Linked DNA regions of Homo sapiens. The protein of the gene in region 4 purifies or fractionates together with the protein of the main gene of each other region. This does not show direct contact. Each region holds a gene or a part of one and is shown on either strand. Other genes may lie near its edges. The genes, in order: MTCL1, ARHGDIB, TWNK, ZBTB1, EIF4B, SPTAN1 and SLC25A3.

Region 1 (3,500 bases), on a different chromosome or scaffold from region 4:
TTTAGCAGCCATAACCCCACACCTCCCCCACCCCCAAATAGTGTCCTCTTGCCATGCTGACCTCCTGCAGGGTGGGTGAGGATTGGGGTGGGAAGAGCTGTTTCTTTTTGCTTTGCTTTGCTTTCTCAGTTATTTCATAGGAAATATTTTTCTGTTAAAAGAAAACAAGTTGGTGCTAGATACAAGGGCAGAGAAAATTGGCTTCTTGGAGAGGAATGATTTCCTAAGGGAGAGGTTGAGTTTTGGTTTTATAGGTTGCAGTGTCTCACTGCTGATCCAAGCTTACCATCCTGCTTCTCATTGGAGTTAGCCTTTTGAGTTTCAGGCCCTGACCTGGTTTTTGACATTTGGCAGCTGGGCTGCCCAGATGCCGGGTGCTCAGTGTGGCCTGGGGGTGGAGGGGCACTTGGAGAGGAGCGCAAGCAGTGCTCTGTAGCTGAGGTGTCTCAGCGCCTCCTTGCTCCCCGCCTCCTCCTCCTTTCTCTTTCAGAAGGGTTAACATGGACAGTATTCCCCATTCTTTCCTGACATTCGCTGTCCATACCCACTCTGTATTCAGCCACTGAAAGAGTGGCTATGATCATTTTCAGTGGCAGTTAATGTAGACAAGGGCTGCGGCCACCAGCTGCTGGCTGGACCATCACCTGGTAGACAGTGGGAGTCGCCCTGCACCTCCTTAGTTACAGCTGGGACTCTTGGAGAACATTTCCCTTGTCTGGAGGGAAATGAGGTGGATTATTCGTATGTTACAAAAGACAGTAGTTTCTGTCTGCCCAGAAGATAGAATTATTGCAGCAGTAGCCAGAGGACTCCTTCTACCATCCAAACTGGGTCTATTTAAAGAGGAGGTGCTAAAATAGAGATAGTTACTGATTTTGGGTATTTAAAAGAGATTAAGATTTTCATATAGTTATTAACATGATTAAGAGTTTTCATCACTTATACTAAGAAGCCATGGATTTGACTTTTATTATATATTCATGGATAAAACTATCCTTTTAGAGGTTTTCATTAAAACATATAATTTTAATCTTGGTTTACTCTAGTGCACACCTGGTACCTCATTATTCCTCTAATTTGAGATACATGATAAGGCTTGATTTGTCAGCCACAGGCAAAGGGGAATAGTCGACTGGACTTCACAGTACTTCAAGATTTCGTTTTATATACAAAACTTTAAAAAGGTATTTAATTAAAACTAGCTTTTCAATGAGATAATGATTTAATACTTAAGTATCCTCCAGACTTGATGTTAATTCAGTAAAAAACTATTAAGGACAGCTTTTTCTTATTTCCGTGTATAAAAAGACAACAGCGATTTTCCAATTTTATGTACTATCTCTAAATTACACCTGTCAGAAACATCATATGCTCTGCTCGATTTGGTTTACTTAAATTTTTAGTTGGCAGATGTCATTAAGGTTCTGCAATACAGTTTTCTAAATTGGAGCATGCCGTCAGAAAATTAATGTAATGTTAGTTTGAAAATCACTATCCATCATGACCCTAATTCCAGTAATCATAGTTTTTGCTTTTCAGATGGCTGCTGCCAGCTTACATGGTTTATAATTTGCTTGTCTTTAACTTCTTTTCACTGAACCTGAAAATTACTTTTTTCTAGGCTCTCTGGGAAGAGTTGAAACACTGGCCCTGGTCCTATTGCTGCAGCAGACCAATAATGGTGGAAAGCCATTTATACTTTTAGAATCTCAGTTTCCTCGTTTTAAAGATGGGAGTATTAGCCAGGCATGGTGGCATGTGCTTGTAATCCCAGCTACTCAGGAGGCTGAGGCAGGAAGATCACTTGAGCCCAGGAGCTCAAGGTGGCAGTGAGCCATGGCTGCACCACTGCGCTCCAGGTTGGGTCACAGAGTGAGACTCTGTCTCTTTAAAAAAAGCGGGGAAGGGGCACGGATATCTTTACCGCACGTTGCAGTGTCTTCCTAAGAACCAGTTGCCCTAATGGATATGCTTTGTGTCGTCACTTGTCGAGCTGTAAATGTTAGGCTGCTTTTTTTGTTTTACACTGATGGTGGACTTTTAAAAGTACAATTGAAGGTCTGTTATTGTTTCATTTGTCCAGGTTGAAGCAAATAATTTATGGTATTTACTCGAAAGAGTGTGTGATTGAAAGCAGACAGGCCTGGGTTTGCAGTGTGGCTTCAATTTACTAGATGTGAAGCTTTGGACACAGGTAACTAGCCTCAGTTTTGTTTTTTTGTCTATCAACTGCATAATGTGTTCCTGACAGGGTTATTGTAGGGTTAGTAATGAGGGTGAGGTGCTTAATAAACGACGCCTGTTCTGTAAATTTAGGTAAAATATGAATTATAAGAGCAGTGATTTAAATACATGCCGTTATGGTGCATTGGTCCATTTTTATACTTCTGTGAAACACTAGACTGGGTAATTTATAAAGAAAAAAGGGTTTAATGGACTCACAGTTCCACATGGCTGGGGAGGCCTCACAATCATGGTGGAAGACAAAGGAGGAGCAAAGACACATATTACATGGAGGCACGTAAGAACGTGTGCAGGGAAACTGCCGTTTATAAAACCATTAGATCTCTCTTGAGACTTACTCACTGTCACGAGCAGCAGAGGAGAAACCCGCCCCCGTGATTCAGTTACCTCCCACTGGGTCCCTCCTGTGACACGTGAGGATTATGGGAGCTACAGTTCAAGATGAGATTTGAGTGGGGACACAGCCAAACCATATCATATGATCTCTCCCTAATTTTCTTTTCTCTTTTTTTTTTGAGGTGGAGTCTCACTCCATCGCCCAGGCTGGAGTGCAGTGGCGCGATTTCCACTCACTGCAAGCTCCACCTCCCGGGTTCACGCCATTCTTCTGCCTCAGCCTCCCGAGTAGCTGGGACTACAGGTGCCCGCCACCACGCCTGGCTAATTTTTTTTATTTTTAGTAGAGACAGGGTTTCACTGTGTTAGCCAGGATGGTCTTGATCTCCTGACCTTGTGATCCGCCCGCCTCGGCCTCCCAAAGTGCTGGGATTACAGGCGTGAGCCACCGCACCCGGCCCCTAATTTTATTTGCAGTACAACTAATGTTGGTGATTATTTGTGCCAAAAAATATTGCTATTTACATCTGGTCTGCTCAATGATGTGGAGGTGTGGGTGCATCTAGCCCTTGAACAGTTTTCATAGCCTGTAACATCTGTATGAAAATGCAGCATTTAACATTAGGGTGGATGTGGGCTCTCCAGTTGCAAAGTCTGAAAGCTAGAGACATTTTATACCTGGAAGCTGTATCTTGCATCTTAGGGCTATATTGCATTTTAAAAACTTTTGTCTTAGTTGCCGATAATCCCAGGCATTAATGACTTTGGCAGGCTTTCTGGAAAGAAAAGCAATCACAAACCATTCTTTCCATGAACAGAATGGCCAGAGTCACTGTATATTTGTATGTGTGGATATACATGTACATATACATATACAGATATTGACTTAGTGTTGAACATTTAGTGATTATTGCTTGTAT
Region 2 (3,500 bases), on a different chromosome or scaffold from region 4:
GAGAAGGGGAGAGACTGAAAGGGAAGTGGATCCAGAAAAGGGAAATGGATGGACAAATGCTAAGGGCAAATTTGTACTTACGATTTTGTCTGGAGGAATTTAAACTGTCCTTTGCTATTTTTGTGGCATTTAAAAAGAATAGAATATCTTTAGATATAAAACCTTATATATCAATCAAGGAAATTGTATAAAGTGCCAGAACTATGCAAGTGTTTTAGGGGGAATTCAAGAAAAACAGCAAACCTAGTACCCACCCTTGAGGGGTGATTAGCAGTGTTGGGTGTGAACCATGCAGGCACCTGAGGCAGGTATCATAAAGGTCAACGGTTCGTCATGAGTCATCTTTGAGGCATTGCTGGAGTTCAGGGACAGATTCCATTGATGGGGAGGAGCCAACCATTTCTCTGGCAAGTACTCCACCTCTCTCTTCTCTCTCCTGCCTCTCTCCACCATTATCACTCAGACTGTGCATGCTGCAAGCTTTGACGCTAGCCAGGCTGGCTGGATTTGGAGGACTGTGATAACTCCTACAGCTTTTTGACTGGGCTTTTGCTTCATTTGTTCAGGAGTCTTTGTGCCATGTTGCTTCACTCGTAGTACGTTATTCACATATGAGTGATTTCTTTCTTGTCAGTTTTGTTCAGTGAATAGAAGATACTACAATGGTACAGAGAAATTCAGGCAGGTCAGAGAAATTACTAGAATACATTAGATTATTATTTCATAGAATTTAATGAGATTGAATTAGGAAAACAATCAGGAAAGTGACTGATGATCAGAGAAGTCCATGAGGGTAAGGAGGCTGCTAACAGCAGCCCCACTAACATCTTTTATATTCATGACTTGTTGACTAACGGGCTGTCATTCTGTCTCCCAGAAATAGATCAGAATGACTGAAAAAGCCCCAGAGCCACATGTGGAGGAGGATGACGATGATGAGCTGGACAGCAAGCTCAATTATAAGCCTCCACCACAGAAGTCCCTGAAAGAGCTGCAGGAAATGGACAAAGATGATGAGAGTCTAATTAAGTACAAGAAAACGCTGCTGGGAGATGGTCCTGTGGTGACAGGTATGTGTGTACAGAGAACAGGGTGGGTGGAAGATCGCTGAGAGGGAAGAAGACATTTTGGCTGCTCAGGAGCAGCAGCAAAGGGAAGAGGACCAACTGCTTCCAGGAAAAAGTGAGCGAGGCACAATTTATATATGCTGATTAAAGTTATGAACTGTATAATTAAGTCTTCTTAAGAGATAAGATGCAAGTCAGCAGTGAGATAGGCACACATAACACACAGAGGGGATTTAGAAAGAATTCCAGGCTACCACTTAGAATTGTATTTCTCTCTCTCCATTTTCTCTCTTTCTCAGTCCTTACCTAACCGTTCATCTCTTCCACATACACCGCGGCAGAACAAGACATGGCCCAGAGATATAAATGGACAGTGCCCAATTAGCAGAGTACCTGACCCATAGCCATTCAGGAAATGTTGGATGTCAATAATTAGATGGACCTACAAGTGCCTAAAGCAGAAATAACTTTGCTGTAATTTACAAGGCCATCAAGACCAAGCATAGCAAACCTGCCACATCCATTTCTATTTCTACTCCAGATAGAAAGATCACTTTTATTTTCATACTCTCTGTCTCCCACTTGAAATGCACACACCCACTATACACATGTCTCTTCTTGGTACTTACATTCCCTTTCGATCCTGCAGATCCGAAAGCCCCCAATGTCGTTGTCACCCGGCTCACCCTGGTTTGTGAGAGTGCCCCGGGACCAATCACCATGGACCTTACTGGTATGTAGACACATCTGTACTGTTCAAAGGGGGCCTAAGATATCACAAAGAAAACTTGGTCTCTGTCTCCTGTTCCAACAGAAGAAAACTGGTGAATCAGAGAGATATATATGCTAGGACCAGTTAACAAATCATTGCTCTTAGAGTGCACAGTATTTACCATGTTTCATGAAAAGCCCAATCTTTATCTCTATTTAATTGAAGAGAGTGCAGGCATACACATTTGATATATTTACAGATTTTTGTCTCCACATGATAGTAAGAGAATTGTTATTTATGCAATAAAGACTGCTGATGGAAATATTAAGAAACAAATTGTGTGCTTCTGAAGTTATAAGGTTTATACAGTCTAAACATCAAAGTATTGATCTTCTATCCACTACAAAACTTACTGGAAGGTGAGAAGCAATCCGGAATTATACTAGAAATTCCACTGCTATAGATTGAATTGTTTTAGCTTGAAACTCTGATTCTTGTTAAATAAACAACGTCTCCTACTAAAGGCGTACAAATTAAGATGTTATTTTCTTTCACCTTATTGTAACTAAGGGTCAAGCCTTTCCCTGAGACTTAGGGCTTGAGGAGGAGAGAGACTGGGAAGGGGGTTATTGTGGAGGAAATGGGCATCAGAGGGGATATGAGAGGAGAAGCACGGAGCCAGGAGATTGGGGCCTTCAAAGGCAAGTTTTTAGTGGAAAAAAAAAATAGTTACCAAATGAAAAAATTGGACTCTTGTGAGACAGACAAAGCACAAGTCTAGAACAGTTGGCTTAGTTAGCAGCAGAGTAGTTCCCCTCTCACAGGACACAGCCAGTCTTTACCTTATATGGGCTTTTTTGTCAGAGGGAGGAAATCAGAGGCTGAGAAGGCACACTTCCTGTTCAACTGAAATCATTAGAGCAGGCACACACACACATTCAGCTACCCCGACATGCTGACATCTCTCCAGGAGAGAAACTCACGCTCTCTCACCAGAACTCAGAGTCTTCCTAATATTACCAGGTACAGCTGCCAGTTTGCAAGATAAGGTCTGAATTAGCGCTAAAGAAATCTGTTCTCTTCAGCAGGACCTGGTAGTATTGCAAGGAAAACTTGGTCTCTGTCCCCTTTCCCAGCAGAGGAAAACCAAATTGGGTTTTCTGTCACTAACAAGCTGCTATGCATGAAGAAAAGCATAGAGAGTGATTACCTCCTTAATCAGGGTACAGGAATTTGGGACAGATCCTGGTTTTATGGAACCTGAAGCTTTTATAACTTCAGTGATATTCCTTAAGAAAAATAGTATGAAATTGCAAATGAAAATACAAGAGTAAACACAAAGGTGAACATTTTCTTAAAGTGATAAAATGAATAAAAACAAGTAGAATTTTAAAAGCTAGAAAATGCCACAAACATCACCAAATCTATAAAAACAAATAGCTGACACTCCTAAATACTATTTTTCTTATATGTTTTATTTGAGGGGTAAGGGGCATATTCTTTAATAACCTCTTCATTTGACCAGTAATATAATTCTCAATGAGAGAATAAATGGACCAAAAAAAGATTTATCTTCACAACTCATTATTTGTAATGTCTTGTGTATTTTTAGCATTGTCATCAAACTTGGGGGCAGGGAAACTCTCATGTTTTTCATAACAGAGCTGTAAGATTTCAGGCATTAAGTGTGTGTGTGTGTGTGTGTGTGTGTGTGTGTGTGT
Region 3 (2,181 bases), on a different chromosome or scaffold from region 4:
TGGTCAGTAGTTCAAAGAGCTTTGGTCATGGGGGGAAGTACTTTTCCCTCTCCCATTCTTTCTCTTTTTTTTTTTCTTTTTTGAGACGGAGTCTCGCTCTGTTGCCCAGGCTGGAGTGCAGTGGCACAATCTTGGCTCACTGCAACCTCCGCCTCCCGGATTCAAGCGATTCTCCTGCCTCAGCCTCCCAAGAAGCTGGGACTATAGGTGCATGCCACCATGCCCAGCTAATTTTTTGTATTTTTAGTAGAGATGGGGTTTCACCGTGTTAGCCAGGATGGTCTTGATTTCCTGACATCGTGATCCACTCGACTCGGCCTCCCAAAGTTCTGGGATTACAGGCGTGAGCCATTGTACCCAGCCCCTCTCCCCATTCTTATCACTCCTCCCTGCCCTGTCAGCCCCCCTTTCTGCTTTGCTCATGTCCTCTTACTCCTGCTTTCCTCCTTCTGCCCCCTGTTCCCCAGGCAAGCCAGGAAGCAGACAATGTTCTGATCCTGCAGGACAGGAAGCTGGTAACCGGGCCAGGGAAACGGTATCTGCAGGTGTCCAAGAACCGCTTTGATGGAGATGTAGGTGTCTTCCCGCTTGAGTTCAACAAGAACTCCCTCACCTTCTCCATTCCACCAAAGAACAAGGCCCGGCTCAAGAAGATCAAGGATGACACTGGACCAGTGGCCAAAAAGCCCTCTTCTGGCAAAAAGGGGGCTACGACACAGAACTCTGAGATTTGCTCAGGCCAGGCCCCCACTCCCGACCAGCCAGACACCTCCAAGCGTTCAAAGTGAAGGCCGTGCAGAGCTGGTCACTGAAATGAGCCTGATAGGATAGGCTGGAGCATAAAACTCTGCAAGGGCTCCTCTATCCTGTGGTCCTGAGCTGTGTGCCCTTCTCAGTCTGAGGGGCCTAACCTAGAGCAGGTTTCCATAGTGAGAAAATTCAATGTAGCAGACTACTGAGAAACTACTGTGTTGCTCAGGCTTTGTTTGAGGTCCTGTATATACAGCACTGAAAAGAGAGATAAAGTCCCTGCCTGCATGCATTCTGGCGGAAGAGACAAGCAAGCAATGAACAAATTAGCAGAAAACCTAGTTTTAGTGAAAAATGCTGTAAAGAAAATAGAAATGCGATAGAGTGCTGGCAGGCTAGTGTAGATAAGTGGTCTGAAAAGGTGTCTCTGAGCCGAGGGCATGTGAGCTGGGGCCTAAACAACTAGAAGGAGAGAGCCACGTGAACATCCGGCGAAGGGGACCCAGGCAGAGAGAAAAGGAAATCCAAGCCCTGAGGTAGGAATGAGCAGGTCAGATTCAAGGCAGTGAGGTCAGGCCGCATGAACCTGGAGGGGAATCGGGGACTTCATGCGAAACTCCAGCCTAGGCTTTCAAAGTCAAAGGGTGATACAGTGGGTACCAAGCTCCTCTGCTCCCCACTTTGTAGAGCCTAGCATGAGGTGGCATGTACTAGAATTGGATCCTAGGTGCTTAGCCCTGCAATATCAGGGCCTCACTGGTGGGAGCTGCCTCGGGCTGGGTTGCTTGGTCATAGAGCCATAGAAGGAAGCTGTCAGCCCGGAGTGCCTGCCACCTAGACACTGATGCCATTGTGTGCTGCCTCAAGACTGCTGGAGTCAGGACATTTTATAGAGCCTTTTCCAGTTTTACTAAAAAATTTTTCCATTGCCTTTGTTTCTGTGCTTTTTCTTATTCATCCACCAGGTGTCTCCCCAGTCCGTAGCTGAATTTCCCTTTCGGGATTGGGAATGGACGGGTCCCCTCCCACTGCTTGCAGCCTTTGAGCGGTGGGCTTCCAAGGAAGCAGGGACATTAAAGGGCCTTCACACCCCACCTTCCATTTACATCTCTTCTTGGCCTAGGGAAGACAAGATGATCTGTCCTCATACCTAACTTCCCTGAGGATCTCGAGTGATTCCTGGCACAGGTACTCATCACTGGGCCACATGAGCCCAGTGCCCTGCCTGACTGGCCATTCCTCTGTGATGTGAGCCACTCACCTCTCAAGTGGACTTAGACTCAACATATTCTGTCCACCCCCATCCATCTCCCTCCTGTACCCTCTCCGTGTTTCTCATATGCTAATGCGTGCCAGAACTCCTGGGGACTTGTGAAAAATGCAGAAACTAGGCCCCATTCTCCCCCCATCCTCCACCACGTACATTTCTCA
Region 4 (3,682 bases):
CAGCTCCCTCCAGTTTTGAGCAGTTTAAAGTGGCAATGAACTACCTACAGCTATACAATGTTCCTGACTGTTTAGAAGACATCCAGGATGCAGATTGTTCTAGTTCAAAATGTTCCTCTTCTGCTTCCAGCAAACAGAACAGCAAAATGATATTTGGGGTAAGAATGTATGAAGATACTGTGGCTCGAAATGGCAATGAAGCCAACAGGTGGTGTGCAGAGCCAAGTTCAACGGTAAATACACCACATAATAGAGAGGCTGATGAAGAGTCTTTACAATTAGGTAATTTTCCTGAGCCACTATTTGATGTATGTAAAAAAAGTTCCGTGTCCAAATTATCTACTCCAAAAGAACGTGTGTCAAGACGCTTTGGGCGGAGTTTTACCTGTGATAGCTGTGGATTTGGCTTTAGCTGTGAAAAATTATTAGATGAGCATGTGCTAACCTGTACTAACAGACATTTATACCAAAACACAAGATCTTACCATAGAATAGTAGATATTAGAGATGGAAAAGACAGTAACATCAAAGCTGAATTTGGTGAAAAAGATTCTTCCAAAACATTTTCTGCACAGACGGACAAATACAGAGGAGACACAAGCCAGGCTGCTGATGATTCAGCTTCAACCACTGGAAGCAGAAAAAGTAGCACAGTGGAGTCTGAAATAGCAAGCGAAGAGAAAAGCAGAGCTGCTGAGAGGAAAAGGATTATTATTAAGATGGAGCCAGAAGATATTCCTACAGATGAACTGAAAGACTTTAACATTATTAAAGTTACTGATAAAGACTGTAATGAATCCACTGACAATGATGAATTAGAAGATGAACCTGAAGAGCCATTTTATAGATACTATGTTGAAGAAGATGTCAGCATAAAAAAAAGTGGTAGGAAAACTCTAAAACCTCGAATGTCAGTAAGTGCTGATGAAAGAGGTGGTTTAGAGAATATGAGGCCCCCTAACAACAGCAGTCCAGTACAAGAGGATGCTGAAAATGCATCTTGTGAGCTGTGTGGACTTACAATAACCGAGGAGGACCTGTCATCTCATTACTTAGCCAAACACATTGAAAATATCTGTGCATGTGGTAAATGTGGACAAATACTTGTAAAGGGTAGGCAGCTTCAGGAACATGCTCAACGATGTGGCGAGCCCCAAGATCTGACCATGAATGGGTTAGGAAATACTGAGGAGAAAATGGACTTGGAAGAGAATCCTGATGAGCAGTCCGAAATAAGAGATATGTTTGTTGAAATGCTGGATGATTTTAGGGACAATCATTACCAGATAAACAGTATCCAAAAAAAGCAGTTATTTAAACATTCTGCCTGCCCTTTTCGATGTCCTAATTGTGGCCAGCGTTTTGAAACTGAAAATCTAGTGGTTGAACATATGTCTAGCTGCTTAGATCAAGATATGTTTAAGAGTGCCATCATGGAAGAAAATGAAAGAGATCACAGACGAAAGCATTTTTGTAATCTGTGTGGAAAAGGATTTTATCAGCGGTGTCACTTAAGAGAACACTATACTGTTCATACTAAGGAAAAACAGTTTGTTTGTCAAACATGTGGAAAGCAGTTTTTAAGAGAGCGTCAGTTGCGACTGCACAATGATATGCACAAAGGCATGGCCAGGTATGTCTGTTCCATTTGTGATCAAGGAAACTTCAGAAAACATGACCATGTACGGCATATGATTTCTCATTTATCTGCTGGTGAGACTATATGCCAGGTCTGCTTTCAGATATTCCCAAATAATGAACAGTTGGAGCAGCACATGGATGTTCATCTGTATACATGTGGAATATGTGGAGCAAAATTTAATTTGAGGAAAGATATGAGATCACATTATAATGCCAAGCATTTGAAAAGAACCTGAGTGATTTTCTACTGTACTAATGTTTAGATGATAGCAGATAAAACACCAAAGCAAAGGATATGAGCTATTTAGGAATTGATTATATAAGATGATTTGTTAGAAACAAATTTCAAGGCCCTTTTAACTTTAATATTTTTGTTTAGGATTTTAAGTATCTACATTTAGGTATTAAATGTTTATCATTTTTGTTGTTTCTTAATAGAATTATTTGTTTTTAGTTTTTCTTAGCTATGATTAAAATTTTTAAATGTAGACTACAAGTGGTTGTTACCCATTCAATGACTATTAAACTTTAGTTTTTCATCAATAAGGTGATGACTTCACTATTTCTATGTGTTTTTTTTTTTTTAAGGTTATCCTGTGAAATTTTAAACCCAGAATCATTGGCCATTTCTGTTTAAATTTTAAAAATTCCTTAAGTAATTATTTGAAACTATCCCGTTTGCTTTTAGTGAGTTAACTACTCTTTATTCCCCCTTATTAATGAAATTCATATTCTTAAATTGACAAGCTTATTAGGCAAGTTAGGTGCACTGAATCTAACCTTTAAGGTTGACATGGGCTCAAACTTGGCCTAAAAAGATTGATGAACCTGAGGAAATTTTTATAAATGAATATTTCCTATAATTGATAAAATATTATCATTTAATTATCACATTTAAAACTTATATTAAGTGTAAATTCCAGTGGCTTTACCTCACTTGAAAAATTAGTGGGGATAAGCCATTTTGTTTTGTGATATTAAATTTAACTATGATAGTTAATTAAAAAGACATATCTTGTATTCATTAAAAATATTTTAATTTAAAATATTCTGATTTCTAAAGTGTGTTAGCTTATCAATTATTTTTGTTTATAAATAGACTTTAATAGCTCTCTAAGAATATGACCTCTAAAGGAAAAGATGATTTTTTACAATACATACTTCTGGAACTTTGAGATTTGAGAAAGCTTCCATGTATATTGATAAATCTAATAAAATAAAGAGATCAATTATAAACCTGGTTGTTCTATAAAAGTAGAGTGCACAAAAAAATGTCTTGTGTTTTATACTGTCTAAGATTTGGAGGAAATGTGGCAAATTGCAGTTTATCGCCATATTTTATTATCATTTTTTTCTGTAAAAGACTATAAAACTTGAGGATTATAAAATAATCACAGAGTATATCAATGGAAACAGTTTATCATTTTTTCAGTTAAAGTAGTAGTATTGTTAGTTGTTGCTGACACAGGGTCTACATAATTACATGTGAATTAAAACATTGGCAAAACTGACCCACCAATAAACACATCTATTGAATAGAATGCCTTTTAATGTGAATTACTTGCAATGTAGTACCCTTTTCATAATGAAAGGGATTTTAATTAACTCCTAATTTTAAAAATATAAATTTGTGATTCTGAACACTAATAGCATTGCTCTTTTTGTTCACATCATATTTAAAATATGCAAATCATATTTTGTATACAATTTACATAAAAGAACAAGTTGCCAAAAGAACTGAGAGACATACTGGTGAGTACAGATTTAGTTGAAAGCATTAGAGCACCATGTGAGCTCAGATTTGTGGGGATATGTTGAAGTGTTAAGTAAGGATAGGAACAGCACAGGAACCAAGTGCAGAATTCAAATAACGGGAAGTAGGCAGGGGACGGGTAGAATACACACAAAAATTAAAAATTTAACAGCAAAAGCAGGAAAAGTGATTCATCTTACCCTTACTTAGATACAATAGTTTATCAAGTAATTAAATTTGAAATCCAACTTAAAATGAAATGTGGTATGTATATTACTGATAGGAACC
Region 5 (3,500 bases), on a different chromosome or scaffold from region 4:
AGAAAGATTATTCACCAATACTCAGGTATTTACAGAGTTGTACAATGCAATATTGTAAAACATTATTTAGAAAGAAATAACATGGACGCTCCTCAAATGGTTAAATTATGGCATTTCCATGAAGGGGTACTATGCAGACATAAATAAGAAATTTAAAAGTTGCAGAATACCTATTATGTGTAAACACATGTTTACGTACGGAAAAGGGTCTGAGTGTTTGAGATACACCCTGGAGAGTATGTTTGGAGTGTGGGGGCAACCTTTTATTTTCTACTATATTCACTTATCATTTGAGATCTTTAATTTTGTAACTACTTCTATTCAGTTACTACTTTCACTGCTCTTTGGATAAAAAAGATCAATAAAAATTCGTATCTCACATAACATATTCAGTATGGCAGTTTTGAAGACTGTTTTGACACTTGTAAACAAACCATATAGGGAAGGAATCACAACTGTCTTTTTTTTTTTTTTTTTGAGACAGAGTCTTGCTCTTGTTGTCCAGGCTGGAGTGCAATGGTGCCATCTCGGCTCACTGCAACCCCTGCCTCCTGGGTTCAAGCAATTCTCCTGCCTCAGCCTCCCGAATACTTGGGATTACAGGCACCCGCCACCATGCCCAGCTAATTTTTTGTGTTTTTAGTAGAGACGGGGTTTCACCATGTTGGCCAGGCTGGTCTTGAACTCCTAACCTCAGGTGATCCTCCTGCCTCGGCCTCCGAAAGTGCTGGGATTACGGTGTGAACCGCCACACCCGGCCCCATTTTTTTTTTTTGAGACAGGGTCTTGCTCTGTTGTCCAGGCTGTAGTGCAGTGGTGTGGCCACGGCTATCTGAAGCCTCAACCCTCCCATGCTCATGTGATCCTCCCACAGCCTCCTCAATAGCTGGGACCACAGAGGCACACTACCACGCCCAGCTGATTTTTAAAAAGTTTTTTAATTCCCTATGTTGCCCAGGCTGGTCTCAAGTATCCTGGAGGATCCCAGGCTCAAGTGATCCTCCTGCCTCAGCCTCCCAAAATGCTGGGATTACAGGTATGAGCCATGGTGCCTGGCCACAACTATCAATTTACAGAAAAGGAAACTAAGTCTCAGAGAGGTTAAGTGAAACACCAGATGTCTGTAAAGTTACAGAGACATTAGATGGCTAGGCTGAAGATAAAACCTAAGTTTTTTTCATACGAAGTCTAAGGCTCTTTCTATATACCAAGGTATCCTTGCATCTCAGCAGCTTATTCTATGTCAGGTTATCAAAACCACAGTAAAACGTACTGCTATTTGAAAGTGTTCAAATGTTAACAGTCATATTCCCTAGATCTCTCTGCCCTCTAGAAAAAATGTCCTCCTCTACTATAACAACACTGCATATGAGGATGTAATGCTAAAAGGAAAACACACGAAAACCCTAATAACCAACACATTTAAGTGTTTCCCACAGTTATGGAATATTTAGTAATCTCCAAATGGCTCAACTTAGTGAACTGACACTGCTCTTTCTTTGTGGTCCTCAGAACTTCCGAGAAGTCACCACCAATCAAGAGCTGATTCAGAAGAGCAGAGGGACTCAGTGAAGTTCCAGAACTGGCCTGATAGCAGCCACTACATGATTAAGAAAAAAACAAGCAGCTTTGTTGTAAAAAAGATTGGCTTCATGGTTTTTATAATCATGAATTTCTCCTCCATGTTCCAATTGTCACCTGATTTTTAATCCAAGAATATCAAACTTGATGTACCCCTTTGTTTAACTGAAGGTTGCTTTCTCACTTGGTATCCCTTTCTTTCAAAATTTAACTTTCAGGAAATAAAGGTAACCAGTTTGCTATGAATGTTAACACATAGCCTTCTGGACACAATTAGAACCTGAAGTATTACGGTCTCAATGTGCAAACCAGATGAACCCGGCTAAAATAATCAAAGTTGACCACGAACATGGTATTTTCTGTATCTCTCAAGTGACTTAATATTAATCCAGCTCCAAAAGTATTGTTTATGATCAACCAGATCACATTTTGAATCCATCCTACGCTTTTTTTTTTTTTTTTGAGACGGAGTCTCGCTTTGTCATACAGGCTGGAGTGCAGTGGCGCGATCTCAGTTCACTGCAACCTCCGCCTCCCAGGTTCAAGCAATTTCTCCTGCCTCAGCCTCCCAAGTGGCTGGGACTACAGGCGCGTGCCACCACGCCAGGCTAATTTTTTTTTTTTTTTTAGTTTCACAGTGTTAGCCAGGATGGTCTTGATCTCCTGACCTCGTGATTAGCCTCCCAAAGTGCTGGGATTACAGACGTGAGCCAACGCGCCCGGCCTGCTTTTTCTTTTTTCTTTTTTTGCAGTGGTGCAATCGTGGCTCACTGCAGCTTTGACCTTTTGGGCTCAAGCAATTCTCCCACTGTAGCCTCTTGAGTAGCTGGGACTATAGGCATGCACCACCATGCCCAGCTAATTTTAAAATTTTTTGTAGAGGCAGGGGTCTTGCTACACTGCCCAGATTGGTCTTCAACTCCTGGCCTCAAGTGGTCCACCCGTCTCAGCCTTCCAAAGTGCTGGGATTAGATGTGAGCCACTGCACTTGGCCTTATTCCACAGCTTTCAAAGAATACGGTTACAGAGAGGTTGGGTCTCATAGCACTTTTATTGCTGCAGCTCATATGCAAAGGTTTTTTTTTTTTTTTAGAGGGAGTCTCACTCTTGTCCAGGCTGGAGTGCAGTGGCGCCATCTTGGCTCACTATAACCTCTGCCTCCCAGGTTCAAGTGATTCTCCTGCCTCAGCCTCCTGAGTAACTGGGATTACAGGCATGTGCCACCAAGCCTGGCTAATTTTTGTATTTTTAGTAGAGATGGGGTTTCACCATGTTGGCCAGGCTGGTCTCAAACTCCTGACCCCAAATGATCCACCCACCTCGGCCTCCCAAAATGCTGCGATTACAGGCATGAGCCACTGTGCCCAGCCTCATATGCAAAGATCTATGGGAGATTTTAATAAGCGAACACGAGTAAGACATGAGGTAAACCACTTACAGTGCGTGGGCTTATTTTAGACTTTTTCATATCATTTAATTCAAAAATAGTGTCTGGGATTAATATGATGCTAGCTACAGATCCTTACCCTCATGGGGCTTAATCTAGTACCATCAGCTAATATCCAATTATTAACCTGTCCTTCCACTGGGAGGATAAAAACAGAACTGGTGGTCAGTACAATAAGGTCAAGTTCAACAAAAGAACATTAACAATCTGAATAAGGTATCCCTTTCCTCTTTGTTCTATATACGTATCTTCTACCAAAACAGCAGAATGTGGAATTAATCTGCCCTTTAGTCCGATTTGGCTTAAATCAACTTTGTAGATCACAGTTTCTCAACTCTCACCCCTTGACTCCTTTGACAAACAAGTTTCTTCTTTAACGTTATTTGAAATTTCCAAACAAATTAAATATCATGACTAAAAAATATTAAAAGCACTTTTAAATCTTAGAATGTCTTTTCAAATCACAAGTCTC
Region 6 (3,500 bases), on a different chromosome or scaffold from region 4:
CACCTTATAGACTAACCACACTACTCCAAAAGATAGAGAATGGCTCTCCCCTTTTTACATAAGAAATAGAAACTCTTTGGAGTTGTAGTTCACTTTGTATCATGTTGACCATTATTTCTTGTGATTCTCTTCAGAGTGGTGATTTGCTGAGATGCTTCAAGGAACCAACCCCAGGGTAACTAGTTGGAGGAGCCAGAAGTTGTGTACAAATCCAGTCTCTTCTCTTCCTTGTTTAGGAGCAGCACCCTGAGGAGGAACTGATCAAGACTAAGCAGGATGAAGTCAATGCAGCCTGGCAGCGGCTGAAGGGCCTGGCTCTGCAGAGGCAGGGGAAGCTCTTTGGGGCAGCAGAAGTTCAGCGCTTTAACAGGTGTCAAGCCAGAGTGGGCTTTGGGGAATGGGTCTCAACCTGGAGGGGAGTTGTGAAGCACAGGGCATGTGCTGGTGAGCTGTCGAGGCTGACTAGGCCTTGGTCCCATGGGGTGTTCCTAGTTCTAGGGAGTCATCATTGCTGTGGATTAACTGGTGCCTTTGTTCTGTAGGGATGTGGATGAGACTATCAGTTGGATTAAGGAAAAGGAGCAGTTAATGGCCTCTGATGATTTTGGCCGAGACCTGGCAAGTGTTCAGGCTCTGCTTCGGAAGCACGAGGGTCTGGAGAGAGATCTTGCTGCTCTAGAAGACAAGGTGGGTTTTACAAGCAGCTGATTCTGTAAATAAGTTACCAAGGGTCAGGAGAATAGTTCTGACGGAGTTCATTTCTAGGTCAAAGCCCTGTGTGCTGAGGCTGACCGCCTGCAACAGTCCCACCCTCTGAGTGCAACACAGATTCAAGTGAAGCGAGAGGAACTGATTACAAACTGGGAGCAGATCCGCACCTTGGCGGCAGAGAGACATGCACGGCTCAATGATTCATACAGGTGCAAATAATGCTCCAGGTCTTAACCAGTATCATTTGGCTTCTTTTTTGGAAGCAGGAATAGCAGAGTTAAGGGTCTGTTCTGTGTTCTGTGAAAGTGTCAGGTATCACCTACAAATGCAAATCACTTCTTACCTATGTTCTCTCTGTTTGGAGACTGGCAACTGTATCATGTGTAGTATACGTATGGTATTTACAACTTCATAAATTCTTCTATTCTGCATCACTGCATTATGATTGATAGAATGGGAATGTCCCTTTAAGTATCTGAGTATCACATGAAATATCTTATTAAAACCAGGATTAGAAAGGAAAAGAATCCTTGCTAGCCAAGGGTTGAACCTGGGAATAACAAGGAAGTTGAAAATGTGGGACAGGATTGGGGCATTATAGTGATGGAGAGAACCTAAGTTTTAAAGGGTTGATTTCAGCCTTCTCTTGCTTTCCTTCACAGTCTAGATTGGGAAATTTTCATATTTCCCAGAATTAGAATTTATATAGTTTGTTAGACATTTGAGAACATAGAATTCAGAGCTTTAGGGAGGCCATTTTCCACCCTGGAACCTCCGCTGGAAACATAATGTCTTCCTTTGGTTTTCCCTAGGCTTCAACGCTTCCTTGCTGACTTCCGTGACCTCACCAGCTGGGTGACTGAGATGAAAGCCCTCATCAATGCAGATGAGCTTGCCAGTGATGTGGCTGGGGCTGAAGCCCTGCTAGATAGACACCAAGAGCACAAGGTAATGGTATCTCTAGAATCTTCCAGAAGTGAAGATTTTAGCTTATAATGCACCAGTTTATCAGTGTTGGGTGAGGCCTATAGTCGGCGTTGGTACCATGTTATTCACAGGTGTTTCTCATCATGAGGATTATGGTTGGTTTTGCCTTTGGAGACCTGGTCTACCTGCTTCTGATAGAGGCTTAACTGGGTTCAGTGTCAAGAGGTTCACTGTGGTCCATAAAAGCAAACAGACAAGCTCTGGCGAGATAGAAGTGCTACTACTTGGCACATTGATCCTTTGTGATGTAAAAAGTATTTGTTGGGCCAGGCACGGTGGCTTATGTCTGTAATCCCAGCACTTTGGAAGGCTGAGGCGGGTGGATCATGAGGTCAAGAGATCAAGACCATCCATGCCAACATGGTGAAACCCCATCTCTACTAAAAATGCAACAGTTAGCTGGTCATGGTGGCACGCGCCTGTAGTCCCAGCTATTCAGGAGTCTGAGGCAGGAGAATCGCTTGAACCCGGGAGGCAGAGGTTGCAGTGAGCCAAGATCACACCATTCCACTCCCGTCCGGACAACAAGAGTGTTTCACTCTGTCTCAAAGAAAAAAAAAAAAAAAAAAACCTTCTGAGAGGTTTTAATGTGCTAGATACAAAATCAATATACTGAAAGTCAAACATGTTTCTCTACACTAGCAACAGAAACATAATTTTTAAAAATACTACTTATTAGAGCAGAAAATATAAAGTACTTAGGAATAAGTCTAACAAAAGAGTGTAAGACACTTCTGGAGAAAACTATAAAACTTTGTTAAAAGGCATTAAATAAAAACTGAATAGATAGAATGATTTATCTAGTACACAGATGGAACGATCTTCTGTGAAGGTGTAAATTCCCACCAGGATATATACCGTTAATGCAGTTCCAGTCAAGTGCTCAGCAGGTATATGTGTGTGTTTCTTTTTGCAATGAGATAAGCTGATTCCAAAACTGATTTGGAAGAAAAAAATTCAAAAAAAGCTGAGACAATGTTGAAGATCATAATGGGGCCAGGGAGGGACTCGCCCTACCAGGTTCTATAAAATCATAGTAAACAAGTCCATTTGGCACAAAGAAGACAGAGCCCTGGAATGAAAGAGAGCTCAGACCCATGTGAATGTGTGGAACCTTGACAAATGACAGGTGACCTGAAAAGCCATTTGGAAAGGATTTCATCAGTGAGTGATACTCTCACATTTGATGACCTAGACTGATTATGTATTAGGAAATCTGGCCTAATCTTTCATTTTGTTTCTCATTTTAGATGTCATAGTCTGGCTTATAATGCTTATGTAAAATTCAGCACCTTGTTTTTATTTTGTAAGATGCTGGGCACAAATCATGGCTTTGTTTTTTTCTCCTGTAGGGTGAAATTGATGCCCATGAAGACAGCTTCAAATCTGCAGATGAATCTGGACAGGCACTGCTTGCTGCTGGTCACTATGCCTCAGATGAAGTGAGGGAGAAGGTAAGAGAAGAGAAATGGAGCTTTTGAGGAGCAAATTACACCTTTCACTAAGTCTCTGAAAGCTATTATTCATCCTTAAATATCCAGAGAACGCATTCACCATGATATGTGAGAAACTTTCCTTTCTCTGCAGAGGTTTAAAAAGAAGGTATATGTATAGTGTGCTGATTTCCTGAGAGACAGTCCTCCTTATCTGGGGCATGTGTGGCATGTTTCCTACTTACAGGGACTTTCTGTAGGGAGCTGAGTCTTGCATTAGGAGTTGGAGCAAAGAGGAAACAAATTTTTATAAAATGATACATAGGCCAGGTGTGGTGTGACCCCAGCACTTTCAGAGGCCAAGGCAGG
Region 7 (3,500 bases), on a different chromosome or scaffold from region 4:
TTGGCGTTTTTTGAGAGGGAAAAATACTCCAAAGGTTATAAAGCAGTGTTTTTGTTTTTTTGGTTTCCCTGAGGCATAGTCTCGCTCTGTTGCCCAGGCTGGAGTGCAGTGGCATGATAATAGCTCACTGCAACCTCCTCCTCCTGGGTTCAAGTGATTCTTCTGCCGCAGCCTCCCAAGTAGCTGGGACGGGCATGCACCGCCATGCCCGGCTGATTTTTGTTTTTGTTTTTTGTTTTTTTTTGAGATGGAGTTTTACCCTTGTTGCCCAGGCTGGAGTGCAGTGGTGCAATCTTGGCTCACTGCAGCCTCCGCCTCCTGGGTTCAAGCGATTCTCCTGTCTCAGCCTCCTGAGTAGCTGGGATTGCAGGCGTCTGCCACTACGCCCGGCTAATTTTTAGTATTTTTAGTAGAGACGGTTTCACTATGTTGGCCAGGCTGGTCTCAAACTCCTGGCCCCAGGTGATCTGCCTGCCTTGGCCTCCCAAAGTGCTGGGATTACAGGCGTGAGCCACCGCGCCTGGCCTGATTTTTGTAAAGATGGGGTTTCACCATGTTGATGAGTCTGGTCTCAAACTCCTGACCTCAGGTGATGTGCCTGGCCTATAAAGCAGTTTTATCTTCCCATAACATTTTATATGCTTTTTAGGATTCATAAATACTTGCTAACTAGTTCCTAAAAGGGCTGTTTCATGGGATGTCATTATTAGGCTTGGGAATGTATTGATCTTACTGTTGCACCATTTTTTTGTTGTTGTTTATTAAGAATTTTATACAGAAAGTGTTGAATAAAATCTGAAAAACTTTAAAAGATTGTTCCGTTTTACATAGGATAGACAGCTTGATAACTGTACCCGTGTCACCCTGAGTCTGATTTTTATTTTAGAACTAGAAAAATATTATTTTAAAATCATAAAAATGATTATTGGCTCTGTGAAGTTTTGTTTTTAACTGGCACTGTATGGGATCCTTTATCTTTTTTCAGCTGGAGTCTTTTGTGCAATTGTTTCTCACCCTGCTGATTCTGTGGTATCTGTGTTGAATAAAGAAAAAGGTAGCAGTGCTTCTCTGGTCCTCAAGAGACTTGGATTTAAAGGTAGGATGATGTTTTTTTCTTGAAAGAAAGAACAACAGTTTTGGATATGTTGCATTTTTTTCATTTGCTTTTCCTGTTTGAACCAGGTGTATGGAAGGGACTGTTTGCCCGTATCATCATGATTGGTACCCTGACTGCACTACAGTGGTTTATCTATGACTCCGTGAAGGTCTACTTCAGACTTCCTCGCCCTCCTCCACCCGAGATGCCAGAGTCTCTGAAGAAGAAGCTTGGGTTAACTCAGTAGTTAGATCAAAGCAAATGTGGACTGAATCTGCTTGTTGATCAGTGTTGAAGAAAGTGCAAAAGGAACTTTTATATATTTGACAGTGTAGGAAATTGTCTATTCCTGATATAATTACTGTAGTACTCTTGCTTAAGGCAAGAGTTTCAGATTTACTGTTGAAATAAACCCAACTCTTCATGATTTGCCTGTGACTTATTTTTAAAACTTTTTTAAAAAAGATTTAGCTTTAAAATAGTTGGAAAGAATGAAGTATATAAGTTAAGGAAAAAATACAAAACTGACCATGACCATTGTTGGTTGAATATTCCAGTTGCTATTCAGAAATTGTCATATGTCTCAAGTTTTATCACACAAAGTTCCTGTATTTCTAGGGAAGCAGACTTTAAATTTCTAAAAACTTGATTTAATTATAGTTAAATATGTGTAGTCATTTGTGGTTATTTTGGCAAGTAAATGTCAGTGTATACTTACATTTTTGCAGCATGTACTACACCTTTTTTATGTTGGTGAGTTTGCTAATCCTTATTTGTAAGACAAGGTAAACCAAATTAGGCTGATTCTTAGAATGACAGTAAAGGACCAAAGTGATTGACAGCTGAAAACAATTTTCAGGTACACTAATTCTCTTTACACAGATCTGACTTTTTTTTTTTTTGAGACGGAGTTTCACTCTTGTTGCCCAGACGAGTGTAGTGTCGCGATCTCGCCTCACGGCAACCTCTGCCTCCCAGGTTCAAGCGATTGTTCTGCCTCAGCCTCCCAAGTAGCTGGGATTTCAGGCATGTGCCACCACGCCCAGCTAATTTTGTATTTTTAGTAGAGACGGGGTTTCCCTGTGTTGGTCAGGCTGGTCTCGAACTTCCAACCTCAGGTGATCCGCCCGCCTCAGCCTCCCAAACTGCTGGGATTATAGGCATGAGCCACCGTGCCCGGCTCTGACTTTTTACAGAAAATTGAACTATTTTCAGTCTGGTATTTTAAGAAAGGTACTGCTTGACAGCTGAACTATATGAATGCCACTGGGGAAAAAGCATTCCATCATACTTAGATACGAGATTGGATTGTAGGTTTAAGCCCATTTTTAAAGAGCTCCTAGAAAGTGAATTAGTTTTTGTGTTTAGATTCCCCTTAAGTTTGATTAGGAAGTGTATAAAAGTTCAATCTTTTGTAATGACAGCCCACCACTGGAAAAAAAACGAAAAACCTAGTGTAATATATAACATGCTGTTTTTCAAACACTAGATTTTACCTAGAGTCCTTATGTGTAATACGTGGGTTGGTTAACAGTCCCTACGTAAAGCGTACAGATGGCCTGGAGAGAAAAACTTTTTCAGAGATTGGAGAGAAATGTTACTACAAACTCATGGTAAGGTCAGTGAACTCAATTTAGAAGCCAGTGCAGCTAGTTGCATGTTAACTTCTTTATATCATCATTGCCTGAACTTGTTAAAGGTTCCAACATTTTACCTGTGCTGCAGGAAAAAAGGAAAAGTTGTAGGTACAAATTTGGACCAAACTTTAAAAAGGTAAAGTAGGATGTCTTCTGAACCCAACCAAGTGGTGGCTGTGGTGCTTAGCAGTATCAACTGTATATTATTTCTTGCTATGTTAGCAAAGCATCCAAAGATCAATGGTGTATGATAAGCTTTTCTGTGGGTGAAGAACTCGGGAGTATCAGACTCTTCTGGTTCTGAGTCTCATGAAGCTTTTCACTTCTGAGCTGAAAGGATGCTCTTTGTGCTTTTCACTATTAGTGGTATAGTCTTTCCCGAAAATCTCTAGCATGGTGGCTTCAGGGCAGCTGGACTTAGGTGGTATTTTGGGGCTCCAGGAGAGCTTGGCAGAGTTGGCTTTTTAGGACTTATCCTTCAATGTCACATAACATCACTTTTACCATGCTCTTGGTTACAACAGTGATGTCTCAGAAACCAAGTCCCAGATTGAGGAAAAAAGGAACATAGTCTCTACCTCTTCCTGAGAGGAAAGTCAGTCAACGTGTAAGAGGAGCAGTAGAAACGCATTAGTCCAGCCAACGTGAAAGTGGACCGTAGATCTAAAACATTTTGGGTATGCAGTTCAGCCAGCCCTTACTGAGGCAGTTCTGCCAATCAGGATTCAAGTTTTATTTCCTAAGAGTTATAATAGGTTTTATTTGTG

Evidence for each region.
Region 1: the proteins of ZBTB1 (region 4) and MTCL1 purify together in Homo sapiens (affinity purification with mass spectrometry, with the first as the bait; one study listed by BioGRID). This does not show direct contact.
Region 2: the proteins of ZBTB1 (region 4) and ARHGDIB purify together in Homo sapiens (affinity purification with mass spectrometry, with the first as the bait; one study listed by BioGRID). This does not show direct contact.
Region 3: the proteins of ZBTB1 (region 4) and TWNK purify together in Homo sapiens (affinity purification with mass spectrometry, with the first as the bait; one study listed by BioGRID). This does not show direct contact.
Region 5: the proteins of ZBTB1 (region 4) and EIF4B purify together in Homo sapiens (affinity purification with mass spectrometry, with the first as the bait; one study listed by BioGRID). This does not show direct contact.
Region 6: the proteins of ZBTB1 (region 4) and SPTAN1 purify together in Homo sapiens (affinity purification with mass spectrometry, with the first as the bait; one study listed by BioGRID). This does not show direct contact.
Region 7: the proteins of ZBTB1 (region 4) and SLC25A3 purify together in Homo sapiens (affinity purification with mass spectrometry, with the first as the bait; one study listed by BioGRID). This does not show direct contact.

What each region holds. Positions count from the first base shown.
Region 1 is NC_000018.10:8,712,056-8,715,555, forward strand, and holds part of MTCL1 (microtubule cross-linking factor 1), read left to right. Parts: intron 1-2,086; exon of another isoform or gene 2,087-2,194; intron 2,195-3,500. UniProt on the Homo sapiens protein: Microtubule-associated factor involved in the late phase of epithelial polarization and microtubule dynamics regulation.
Region 2 is NC_000012.12:14,948,102-14,951,601, reverse strand, and holds part of ARHGDIB (rho GDP-dissociation inhibitor 2), read left to right. Parts: intron 1-450; exon of another isoform or gene 451-685; intron 686-877; 5' UTR 878-889; coding exon 890-1,070; intron 1,071-1,716; coding exon 1,717-1,800; intron 1,801-2,705; exon of another isoform or gene 2,706-2,802; intron 2,803-3,500. UniProt on the Homo sapiens protein: Regulates the GDP/GTP exchange reaction of the Rho proteins by inhibiting the dissociation of GDP from them, and the subsequent binding of GTP to them. Regulates reorganization of the actin cytoskeleton mediated by Rho family members.
Region 3 is NC_000010.11:100,992,723-100,994,903, forward strand, and holds the end of TWNK (twinkle mtDNA helicase), read left to right. Parts: intron 1-467; coding exon 468-788; 3' UTR 789-1,681; downstream 1,682-2,181.
Region 4 is NC_000014.9:64,521,770-64,525,451, forward strand, and holds the end of ZBTB1 (zinc finger and BTB domain-containing protein 1), read left to right. Parts: coding exon 1-1,877; 3' UTR 1,878-3,182; downstream 3,183-3,682.
Region 5 is NC_000012.12:53,012,956-53,016,455, reverse strand, and holds part of EIF4B (eukaryotic translation initiation factor 4B), read right to left. Parts: intron 1-3,500. UniProt on the Homo sapiens protein: Required for the binding of mRNA to ribosomes. Functions in close association with EIF4-F and EIF4-A. Binds near the 5'-terminal cap of mRNA in presence of EIF-4F and ATP.
Region 6 is NC_000009.12:128,576,587-128,580,086, forward strand, and holds part of SPTAN1 (spectrin alpha chain, non-erythrocytic 1), read left to right. Parts: intron 1-236; coding exon 237-370; intron 371-542; coding exon 543-687; intron 688-765; coding exon 766-920; intron 921-1,523; coding exon 1,524-1,659; intron 1,660-3,050; coding exon 3,051-3,152; intron 3,153-3,500. UniProt on the Homo sapiens protein: Fodrin, which seems to be involved in secretion, interacts with calmodulin in a calcium-dependent manner and is thus candidate for the calcium-dependent movement of the cytoskeleton at the membrane.
Region 7 is NC_000012.12:98,600,186-98,603,685, forward strand, and holds part of SLC25A3 (solute carrier family 25 member 3 isoform b precursor), read left to right. Parts: intron 1-985; coding exon 986-1,096; intron 1,097-1,182; coding exon 1,183-1,343; 3' UTR 1,344-3,500. UniProt on the Homo sapiens protein: Inorganic ion transporter that transports phosphate or copper ions across the mitochondrial inner membrane into the matrix compartment. Mediates proton-coupled symport of phosphate ions necessary for mitochondrial oxidative phosphorylation of ADP to ATP.